2 separate regions of the Homo sapiens genome follow, and region 2 is linked to region 1. Evidence: fine-mapped expression QTL. A gene starts in region 1. The other region holds a variant in brackets. All regions are shown on one strand. Distances are between the middles of the regions. Region 1 holds the start of MRGPRX2 (MAS related GPR family member X2). Region 2 has its middle 68 kb from the start of MRGPRX1.

What was found. PIP is the estimated chance that this variant, and not a neighbour inherited with it, causes the effect. A credible set is the group of variants that fine-mapping cannot tell apart.
Region 2: its variant is the best candidate, but not a certain one, in a credible set for the expression of MRGPRX2 in lung (TOPMed, PIP 0.90).

The regions. Positions count from the first base shown.
Region 1 is chr11:19,058,106-19,063,493 of GRCh38, reverse strand. It overlaps MRGPRX2 (MAS related GPR family member X2), which reads left to right and starts at 2,777. Exons shown (of 2, transcript NM_054030.4): 1 at 2,777-2,875.
Region 2 is chr11:18,868,353-18,873,740 of GRCh38, reverse strand. It overlaps the pseudogene LOC645397. Among named protein-coding and RNA genes, the nearest start is that of MRGPRX1, 68 kb to the left of the region's middle. The variant G/T (reference allele first, on the strand shown) is at 3,175.

The sequences.
Region 1 (5,388 bases):
CAATGAGATACCATCTTACACCAGTTAGAATGGAAATCATTAAAAAGTCAGGAAACAACAGATGCTGGAGAGGATGTGGAGAAATAGGAACGCTTTTACACGGTTGGTGGGAGTGCAAATTAGTTCAACCATTGTGGAAGACAGTGTGGCGATTCCTCAAGGATCTAGAACCAGAAATACCATTTGTCTCAGCAATCCCACTACTGGGTATATACCCAAGAGATTATAAATCATTCTACTATAAAGACACATGCACACATACGTTTATTGCAGCACTATTAACAATAGCAAAGACCTGGAACCAACCCAAATGCCCATCAATGATAGACTGGATAAAGAAAATGTGGTACATATACACCATGGAATTCTATGCAGCCGTAAGAAAAGGATGAGTTTATGTTCTTTGCAGGGACGTGGATGAAGCTGGAAACCATCATTCTCAGCAAACTAACACAGGAACAGAAAACCAAACACTGCATGTTCTCACTCATATGTGGGAGTTGAACAATGAGAACACATGGATACAGGGAGGGGAACATCACACACTGGGGCCTCTCAGGGGGTGGGGAGCTAGGAGAGGGATAGCACTAGGAGAAATACCTAATGTAGATGACGGGTTGATGGATGCAGCAAACCACCACGGCATGTGTATACGTAGGTAACAAACCTGCACGTTCTGCCCATGTATCGCATAACTTAAAGTATAATTTTAAAAAAATAAAATAGAACTTCTAGAAATTAGTAATATAAAAATTGGATTTAAACTTCAGTGGATAGATTAAACAGATGATTAGACACAATGGAAAGAATCTAGTTAACTGGAAGATACATCTGAAGAAATTACCCAGAAAGCAGCCTCAGAGACAGAGACGAGACATAAGGAAAAGGTTAAAGAAATAAGGATGATAGAAGAAGAGGGCTAACATATGTTGAATTAGACTTCCAGAAAGAGATAATACTAAAAGTGATAATGAGAGCTAATAATTTTATAGTACTTACTATGTGCTCCTATTGTAAATCATTTATATACATTAAATTATTAATCTTCACAGCAAACCTATAGATTAATAATGTTATCCCCATTTTACTGATGAGGAAACAAACATAACAGAGTTACAAAATCTGGCTAAGGTCCCATAGGAGAAATGCCAAGTAGCCTGGTCTTGTGTTCTTCACCGTTATGTTAATATTTAAAGAGATTATAGCATTAAATTGTTTAAAAATGTTAAATGATGATAATTTTAAAATCTAGGAAACTCCACAAATCCCAAACATGATTTGAAAAAGAGTCACCAGATACAATTTGGTGAGAATGTATCATAGCAGAGAAAAATAAAAGCTCTTAGAGGAAAAAAAGGCAGATCACCACAAGCAAATGGCAACCTGACTGATGGCCGCAACAGTAACCCTGGCAGTCAGAACATGGATCTTCAATGTGCTGGAAGAAAGAAACTATCACCCTACAATGCCATGCCTGGAAAAACCATCTTTAGAAGACGAGGGTGAAACAATGACATTTTCAGATAGATAAAAGGAGGCATTTACCATGCAGAGACTCTCACAGAAGGAACTCCTGAAGAATGTGTTTTGAGAAATGGAAGATATGAGATGTAAAATGGGAGGATGAGCAAAAGCATTGGTGATTATGTGGATAAATCTGAATAAACACTGACTATTTAAAACAATAATAAGTGTTTCATTTGTTGGAGGGAAACAGAATCAAAATCAAATAATAGAGCACAGTAGGTTAGACAGTAACAGAAGTTAAAGCTTTCTAAGGTCCTGCTGCTGCTCATGAGGAAAGCAGATTTCTGGGGACAAATGCATGGTTTACCCACTGCACCAAAGTATAATACAAGAAAATGCTGAGTCTCAGAACTCGCCTCAATCAACACATGTTCCCTGTCTGAGGTCACCCAGCTGCTCTGGAATGCAAAGGGGCATGATCTTGTATGGTGTTCATCATTGTGTCTTCATTGCCTGGAACGGTACCTGACATATCATAGGCAAACAATAAACAGTGTTGAATGAATGAATAAATGAGTGAATAATTTCTTCTGATTGTCTTAAATGCTTCATAATTGTTACTTATAACTCAATTTGGCTGCAGCATAGGCACATGAAAGGAAGTCATAGGAGATAAGGCTGAAAATATTGGTTGGCTCTAGATGATCTAAAAATAATCTAGCTAATAAATATCATGATGTAGAGGGAGAAACGTGACAGATGGTGCATGTGATGTGCTAAGTCCCCTATATTTTATAAGGAGACTCAATATATCTAGTTGTTAACATCGATAAATCAAAAATAGAAATGTTGTTTTATTACGCAAAGCTTTTTTAAAAAAAAGAATGGAAACTGTATGCAGTGGTTGCTTTTGGGGAATGAGACTTCGAGAGACTTTGCATTTCATTTTATACACCTTAGTGTCATTTGAAATAAACCTGATTTTGAAAGGTCAAGTAAGCCAGGGCCTTGAATGCCAAGCAGAAGAGGGCAGACTATTCTTTAGCTATGAAAGCTCACGTCGCTTGATTGGTCTGCTTCCTGGATGCTCATTGTGGGCAATGAAAGACTTCAGGACGGTGATTCCTTGCAGGGAGTGGGGCCGGAGAGGGTAGGGGAGAAACCAAGATAAGTGATTGGAGTCAGGGCAAATGCTGAGAAACATCTCATGTGGTTTCCTGTGTCATACTCTTATTTTCCAGCACCCTCTGTACAGGAAATCACAGGGTTGTTGAGCATCTTGATAAGCTTCACTCAGTCATCAGGTTTCACTCCAGATCCTGCAGGCATCTCCCCATCCTCAGCTGTTTGCCAGTCCCAGGAAAGCACTTCTCAACTCACCAACTCCAGTAGAAAGAAGGGTGTTAAGGTAAGAGTTTGTTCAAGAACCATCTTCTTTCAAAGGCAGTTTTGGTTTTTACCTTAGTCCACATCCTGATGAATTCATTAGGAAAAGAAGACAGGAAGCTCCTTTGAGGAAGCTTTGGATGCTGGCAGCTTAGATGCTGGGAGATCCGAATGGGGTCAAGCAGGTTCGTCCCACTTCTCTTCTATCTACCAATATTCTCCCCTTCTCTTCGACCATTCAAATCTGAAACTATGGAGAGAAAGATTTTGCTGATTTTAATTTAGGGGCAGGCTAGAATGAAGTCATTACTTCCCTAAGCTAAATTGTTATTTAAAACCTCAGGTTGCACTGATTTTCTTGTTATTCAAAAGGTTTTTCCTTCATATCTGTCATTGTCCCAGCAGAAAACACACATCACACACTCTAAAGGGGTAGTTTAGAGGAGTTTAGTGAAGAGACTGTTTACAACGGCGTGAACAGGGATTAAGGAATGATGAAGCCCTCAAAGGCAAGTGATAGTGGAGGGCTGTTACCGTTGCTAGGTCTGAAGTGATAAGGAGAAAGAGAAGTTCTGAGAACTCAGAATGTGCTGTAGCGGTAACTGTAACTGTAACTATAGCTGTGGCTACAGGAAAGGGCCACCAGGCAGGGCTATGTCCTTAGGTAGAAAAACACTGCCACTGCCAACTCACAGCCCTTCAGGGCGCAGGGAGAGAGCCAGGAAATTTTTAAAAAATCATCCCCCAATCTACTGTCAATGTGTCCCTTTGGCTGAAAAAAAAAGTCACCCTCCAATCTCCTGTCAATGTGTACCCTTTGGAGCCTGAGTGAAAGACAGCCCATTGACGAGGCACAGACATGTCTCCTCCCAGGATGCAAAGGCAGGTAGAGAAGGATGGACATGAGATCCTAATAGCAAATAGGAAAGTCCATTTCTTCCCATAGCCTCTTCTCAGTTTGTCTTTCCTGAGACTTTCTCTATTAATGTGATTGAATCAATTTCTCATTCTATCACCTCCCTTTTTTTTAATTGTTTGACCTTCCCATCTAGTGTCACTTCTTTGGACTAGTCTCTCACTATCATCATAAATGCCTTGAGAATGGAATGTGGTTGGGAAAAAAAGGGATTGGGAGTACATAGGTACTCCCAGCTATAAGTACACAGGTATGTGTAATGTAAGTTTATGATTTTGGCTTCTCTAAAAAGAAACCTATTATAGTGATAATCAAAAAGAATGTTTACTAGACTTGGGCTGATAACTCTAAGACATCAAACATCAAGGCTCCTTCCAATTTCTATTTCCCCATCCCTAAAGCGGTACCCTTACCCTCATGGTCCTACATGGCTCCCAAACACATCAGCATTCCAGCCAGAGAGAAGAGAAAAAAAGAAAGAGTACAGGAGTAGCTGGTTATATCACTTTCTCTCACCTCCCCTTGACCATCACATATGGTTACATGGTGCCATTAGCATAAAGGGAAGCTGAGAAATGGGCCTTTTTCTGATCTAAGACTCAGAATTATTATGTGTGAGAAAAGGAGAATGGCTTTTGGGGCAACAAGCAGTCTCTATAGCCCGATTCTCTTTTAGCATCTGTGCTCACCTGGAGATTTTTCTCAACACTGCCTCACAAATAGTGAATGATGTAGACATGGAACAGAAATAAACCTAGGACAGGGCCCCAGGAGACTGGAGCTGGTATTGGACCTGCTTTTCACCATGTGATTCAGGAAACTCTTTTGTACACGTTAAGCCTGTCTTTCTTTGTTAAATGAGCGTATTACAATAGATGGCCTCCAAGGGATATGTGTTGGAGGCTGGGGATATAATAGTGAACAACCACAACAAAAATGTTGAGCTTAATGAGGGAAGTAAAAGAAAAAACAGACATACACTTAAAAATACAGGTGCAGGGCCGGGCACGGTGGCTCACGCCTGTAATCCTGGCACTTTGGGAGGCCGAGGCGGGCAGATCACAAGGTCAGAAGTTCGAGACCATCCTGGCTAACACAGTGAAACCCCGTCTCTACTGAAAAAAAAAATACAAAAAATTAGCCAGTCGTGGTGGTGGGCACCTGTAGTCCCAGCTACTCGGGAGGCTGAGGCAGGAGAATGGCGTGAGCCCAGGAGGCGGAGCTTGCAGTGAGCCGAGATCGAGCCACTGCACTCCAGCCTGGGTGACAGAGCGAGACTCCATCTCAAAAAAAAAAAAAAATACAGGTGCAAACTGTGTTCAGTGCCACGAATAAAAAGGCCAACCTGCCCTGAGGGAGGACAACAGAAGTGGTTTTCTTCCATATCCTCACAAGGCCAACCAGGGCTACAGGAACTAAGACAGCATGTGATGGATGCATTCAGTCCTTGATGCCAATTCTGCACCCCCATGGAGGACACATTCACTTTCCCCTTGGAGGCCTCCAACCCATGAGAGTTTTCTGCAGTGTGGAGTGATTGACGGCTGTTTTTCTGAAGCAAGAAAGAGCTCTTGCATTCAGTTGCTTATTCTCAGTTGGCTTCTATTCATATCTCTTCT
Region 2 (5,388 bases), 190 kb after region 1:
AAAATATATGAAAGAAAAAAGTCAATTGTGGTCAGGCCATGGTGAGCCTTGGATGACATTCTGATATACCTTTTTCTTCATTTATAAAGCCCCACAATACACTCTCACATTGCTTGACATTGAACCTAGGCTCACAGTGGACATTTAAAGGTCCACAACAACAATTGATTACAGGGAGGTGGGCCATATGGGATGGGATGGGAGAGGCTGGCAGTCCAGACTGCAGGAGTTCCAAATGGAGTCAAGCAGACCTTTCTACTGATCCATTTACCCATAATGAGTTGGGATTGCTTGCAGATGAAATTAAAATCAATGGCAAAAGTAAAGACAAAGTTTTTGTCTGTGCTAGAAAGGATAAAGGATCAAGCAGATGGAAAATACATCTTAGTCACTGGGATCACGCCCACTCCTCTAGGAGAAGGGAAGAGCACAGTTATGACTGGGCTGTGCAGGCTCTGACCATGCATCTGCATGTCACCTCTTTTGCCTGTATGAGGCAACCTTCCCAAGGACCGACTTTTGGAGTGGAAAGAAGGAGTCATGGGTAGTGGATATGCCCTGGTCATCCCATGGAAGAGTTCAACCTTCACTTGACTGGAGATATCCATGCCATCACAGTTGCCAATAATTCACCAGCTGCTGTCATCGACCCAAGGATTCTGCATGAAAATGCACAGACAAGGCTCTGTATAATCAGCTGATTCATTTAATGAATGGTGTCACAGAATTTTCAGAAATTCTCTGATTACTTGACTAAAAAAAAACTGGGAATAAATAAGACAGATCCAAGCACACTGACAGAAGAGGAAATGAGTAAATTTGCCTGCCTCGACGCCGACCCTTCCACCATCGCATGGCAGAGAGTATTGAATAAAAATGACCGATTTCTACAAAAAAAATAGATGTTGGCATGGATACAGTGATCTACACTGCCGGTGGGAATGTAAACAAGTACAACTACTATGGAAAACACTGTGGAGATTCCTTAAAGAACTAAAAGTAGAACTACCATTTGATCTGGCAATCCCACTACTGGGTATCTACCCAGAGGAAAAGAGGTCATTTTACAAAAAAGATACTTGCACACACATGTTTATAGCAGCACAATTCACAATTGCAAAAATGTGGAACCAACCAAAAGCCCATCAATCAACAAGTGGGTAAAGAAACTAATATATATATGATGGAATACTACTCGGCCATAAAAAGGAATGAATTAATGGCATTCTCAGCAACCTGGATGAGATTGGAGACTATTATTCAAAGTGAAGTAACTCAGGAATGGAAAACCAAACATCATACGTTCTCACTGATATGTGGAAACTAAGCTATGAGGATGCAAAGGCATAAGAATGACACAATGGACTTTGGGGACTCAGGGAGAAAGGGTGGGAAGGGGATGAGGGATAAAAGACTACAAATTGGGTGCAGAGTATACTGCTCGGGTGATGGGTGCACCAAAATCTCACAGATTTGATTTCATTGCATCTTTCATCAAAACTGTCAAAGCACCAGTCACCCCCAAATCATCAGTGCCACAGGCTGCCCCGTTTTGTCACAGATCACCACTAAAGAACTTACTCATGTAACCAAACACCACTTGTTCCCCAATAACCTATGGAAATAAAAAAATTTAATTAAAAAAATACAAACAACTGATTTCTACAAAAAATAACCATCAGGCAGGCAAACACAGAGAAAGGCTCCTCTTGGCAAACGCTGTTTGATATCGTGGTGGCCAGCGAGATCATGGTGGTGCTGGCCCTTATGAACAGCCTCTCAGACATGAAGACATGGCTGGGAAGGATGGTGGTGGCCATCTGATGCAGACCCTGGAATGGACACCTGTATTCATGCACGTGGGCCCTTTTGCTAACATCACCCATGGCAATTCTTCAGTGTTGGCTGACAAAATTGCCCTGAAACTGGTTGGTGAAGAAGGATTTGTAGTGACTGAAGCTGGCTTTGGTGCTGACATTGAAATGGAGAAATTTTTCAACAAGTGTCAAGCTTCCAGCTTGGTGCCCAGTGTGGTTGTGTTGGTGGCAACGGTGCAAGCTCTGAAGATGCACAGTGGCGGGCCAAGTGTAACTGCTGGTGTTCCTCTGAAGAAAGAACATAAAGAAAAGAACATCCAGTTGGTGGCAGATGGCTGCCGTAACCTCTAGCAGCAAATTCAGATTGCTCAGCTCTTTGGGGTTCCCATTATGGTGACTCTGAAGGTCTTCAAGATCCACACCGGTGCTGAGATTGACTTGGTGTGTGAGCTCACAAAACGGGCTGGTGCCTTTGATGCAGTCCCTTGCTATCACTGGTCAGTTGGTAGAAAACGGTTGCGGACTTGGCTTGGGCTTTGAGAGAAGCTGCAAGTAAAAGAAGTTGATTCCATTTCCCGTATGATGTTCAGCTTCCAATTGTGGAAAAGATAAGAACCATGGCCCTGGCTGTCTATGGAGCCAACGATATCCAGCTCTCTCCTGAGGCACAAACCAAAATAGATTGTTAACACTCAACAGGGTTTCAGAAATTTGCCCATCTGCATGGCAAGGACCCACCTTTCTCTGTCTCACCAACCTGCCAAAAAATTGTGCCAAGGGACTTCATTGTACCTCTCAGTGATGTCAAGGCCAGCATAGGTGCTGGGTTCATTGGCCCTTTGGTTAGAACAATGAGCATCGTGCCAGGACTGCCACTTGGCCCTGCTTTCATGACATAGACCTTGATATGGAAACAGAACAAATTAAAGCCTTGTTCTAAGTGAACAAGGCTTTCATAGGAATTGATTCAGGTTCCTGAAACAGACTCCTCCTTGCCTTTTTGCTGCAGTTAGAGAAGAAACTGAATTTTAAAAATGTCCTTTATGCAATGTTGGAGAAATGGTGAAATAGGTCAAGGATTTCTTCCTCATTGAAGGTGTATCCTATTCACAACAGAGTATAGTGTTCAGCAAAAGGACCTCCACCAAGTCTGAAAAAAAATAATTTACTTAAGTTTCAATAGAGTTTACATTATTTCTACTGCTTACACTTTAGAATGTTAATTTTATGGGACTAAGGGATTAAAAGAGTGTGAACTACAAGGTAACATTTTCCACTCTTGAGTTTTCTTTTTTTTTTTCCTTTTTTTTAAATTATACTTTAAGTTTTAGGGTACATGTGCACAATGTGCAGGTTA[G/T]TTACATATGTATACATGCGCCACGTTGGTGTGCTGCACCCAGTAACTCACCATTTAACAGTAGGTATATCTCCGAACGCTATCCCACCCCCCTTCCCCCACCCCACAACAGTCCCCAGAGTGTGATGTTCCCCTTCCTGTGCCCATGTGTTCTCATTGTTCAATTCCCACCTATGAGTGAGAACATGCTGTGTTTGGTTTTTGGTCCTTGCAATCGTTTGCTGAGAATGATGGTTTCCAGCTTCATCCATGTCCCTACAAAGGACATGAACTCATCATTTTTTATGGCTGCATAGTATTCCATGGTGTACATGTGCCACATTTTCTTAATCCATTCTATTATTGTTGGACATTTGGGTTGGTTCCAAGTCTTTGCTATTGTGAATAGTGCTACAATAAACGTACGTGTGCATGTGTCTTTATAGCAGCATGATTTATAATCCTTTGGGTATATACCCAGTAATGGGATGGCTGGGTCAAATGGTATTTCTAGTTCTAGATCCCTGAGGAATCGCCACACTGACTTCCACAATGGTTGAACTAGTTTACAGTCCCACCAACAGTGTAAAAGTGTTCCTATTTCTCCACATCCTCTCCAGCACCTGTTGTTTCCTGACTTTTTAATGATCGCCATTCTAACTGGTGTGAGATGGTATCTCATTGTGGTTTTGATTTGCATTTCTCTGATGGCCAGTGATGATGAGCATTTTTTCATGTGTCTTTTGGCTGCATAAATGTCTTCTTTTGAGAAGTGTCTGTTCATATCCTTCACCTCCTTTTTGACGGGGTTGTTTTTTTCTTGTAAATTTGTTGGAGTTCATTGTAGATTCTGGATATTAGCCCTTTGTCAGATGAGTAGATTGCAAAAATTTTCTCCCATTCTGTAGGTTGCCTGCTCACTCTGATGGTAGTCTCTTTTGCTGTGCAGAAGCTCTTTAGTTTAATTAGAACCCATTTGTCAATTTTGGCTTTTGTTGCCATTGCTTTTGGTGTTTTAGACATGAAGTCCTTGCCCATGCCTATGTCCTGAATGGTATTGCCTAGGTTTTCTTCTAGGGTTTTTATGGTTTTAGGTCTAACATTTAAGTCTTTAATCCATCTTGAATTAATTTTTGTGTAAGGTGTAAGGAAGGGATTCAGTTTCAGCTTTCTACATATGGCTAGCCAGTTTTCCCAGCACCATTTATTTAAAAGGGAATCATTTCCCCATTTCTTGTTTTTGTCATGTTTGTCAAAGATCAGACAGTTGTAGATATGTGGCATTATTTCTGAGGGCTCTGCTCTGTTCCATTGGTCTATATCTCTGTTTTGGTAGTAGTACCATGCTGTTTTGGTTACTGTAGCCTTGTAGTATACTTTAAAGTCAGGTAGCGTGATGCCTCCAGCTTTGTTCTTTTGGCTTAGGATTGACTTGGCAATGCAGGCTCTTTTTTGGTTCCACATGAACTTTAAACTCTTGAGTTTTCTACTTTGTCTTTGAACAGAAAATAATCATGGACTTAGAAAACCAAACCCACACACAGAGTGGGATCAAGCCATTGCAAGCCCTGAAAGACCCTATGATCTACTTTAGTTTTTAGTTATAAAGCCTCACAAAACAAGCTCACGTTGCTTGACATTGATACCTAGGCCCATAATAAATTGTAAAAGTTCAAAACAGCAATTACTTACAGGAAGTTGAATGAGATGGGATATGATGAGAGAGGCAGATATGTATTAATAATGGGACAGAGGCCAAGAAACATCTCAGTTAGGGATCGTGGCTCAAACAGCTCTGGCTTCTGATTTGCCTGCAATCCTCATACAGGAAATCACATGCTGTCTGTATCTTCATAAACCTGGGTTGGTTGCCAGTTCTCATTCCAGCTCTTGTAGGCATCTCCTAAATGACACAACACAGAATAGTGCTCTGAAGTCACGGAATCCCAGAAAGGCTCTACCCCTTTAGCAAGGGGCAGCTCTTTATCTTTGGACTTGAAGAAGGAGGAAAGGTAAGGGTATGTACCAAGAACTCTCTTCTTTCCACAGCAAGTTATTGTTTCTGCTATAAGTTCACAAACCTGTGTTTCCACCTTGGGGTTCTGCATACAGAAGTTCATAAGTTTCCTTCAAGAAAAGGCAGGAGACATGAAGCTTCCTTCTAGAAACTGAGTGCTGGCAGCCCAGACTGCGGGAGTTTCAAATGGGGTCAGCAGAGCTTTCTCCCTCTGATCC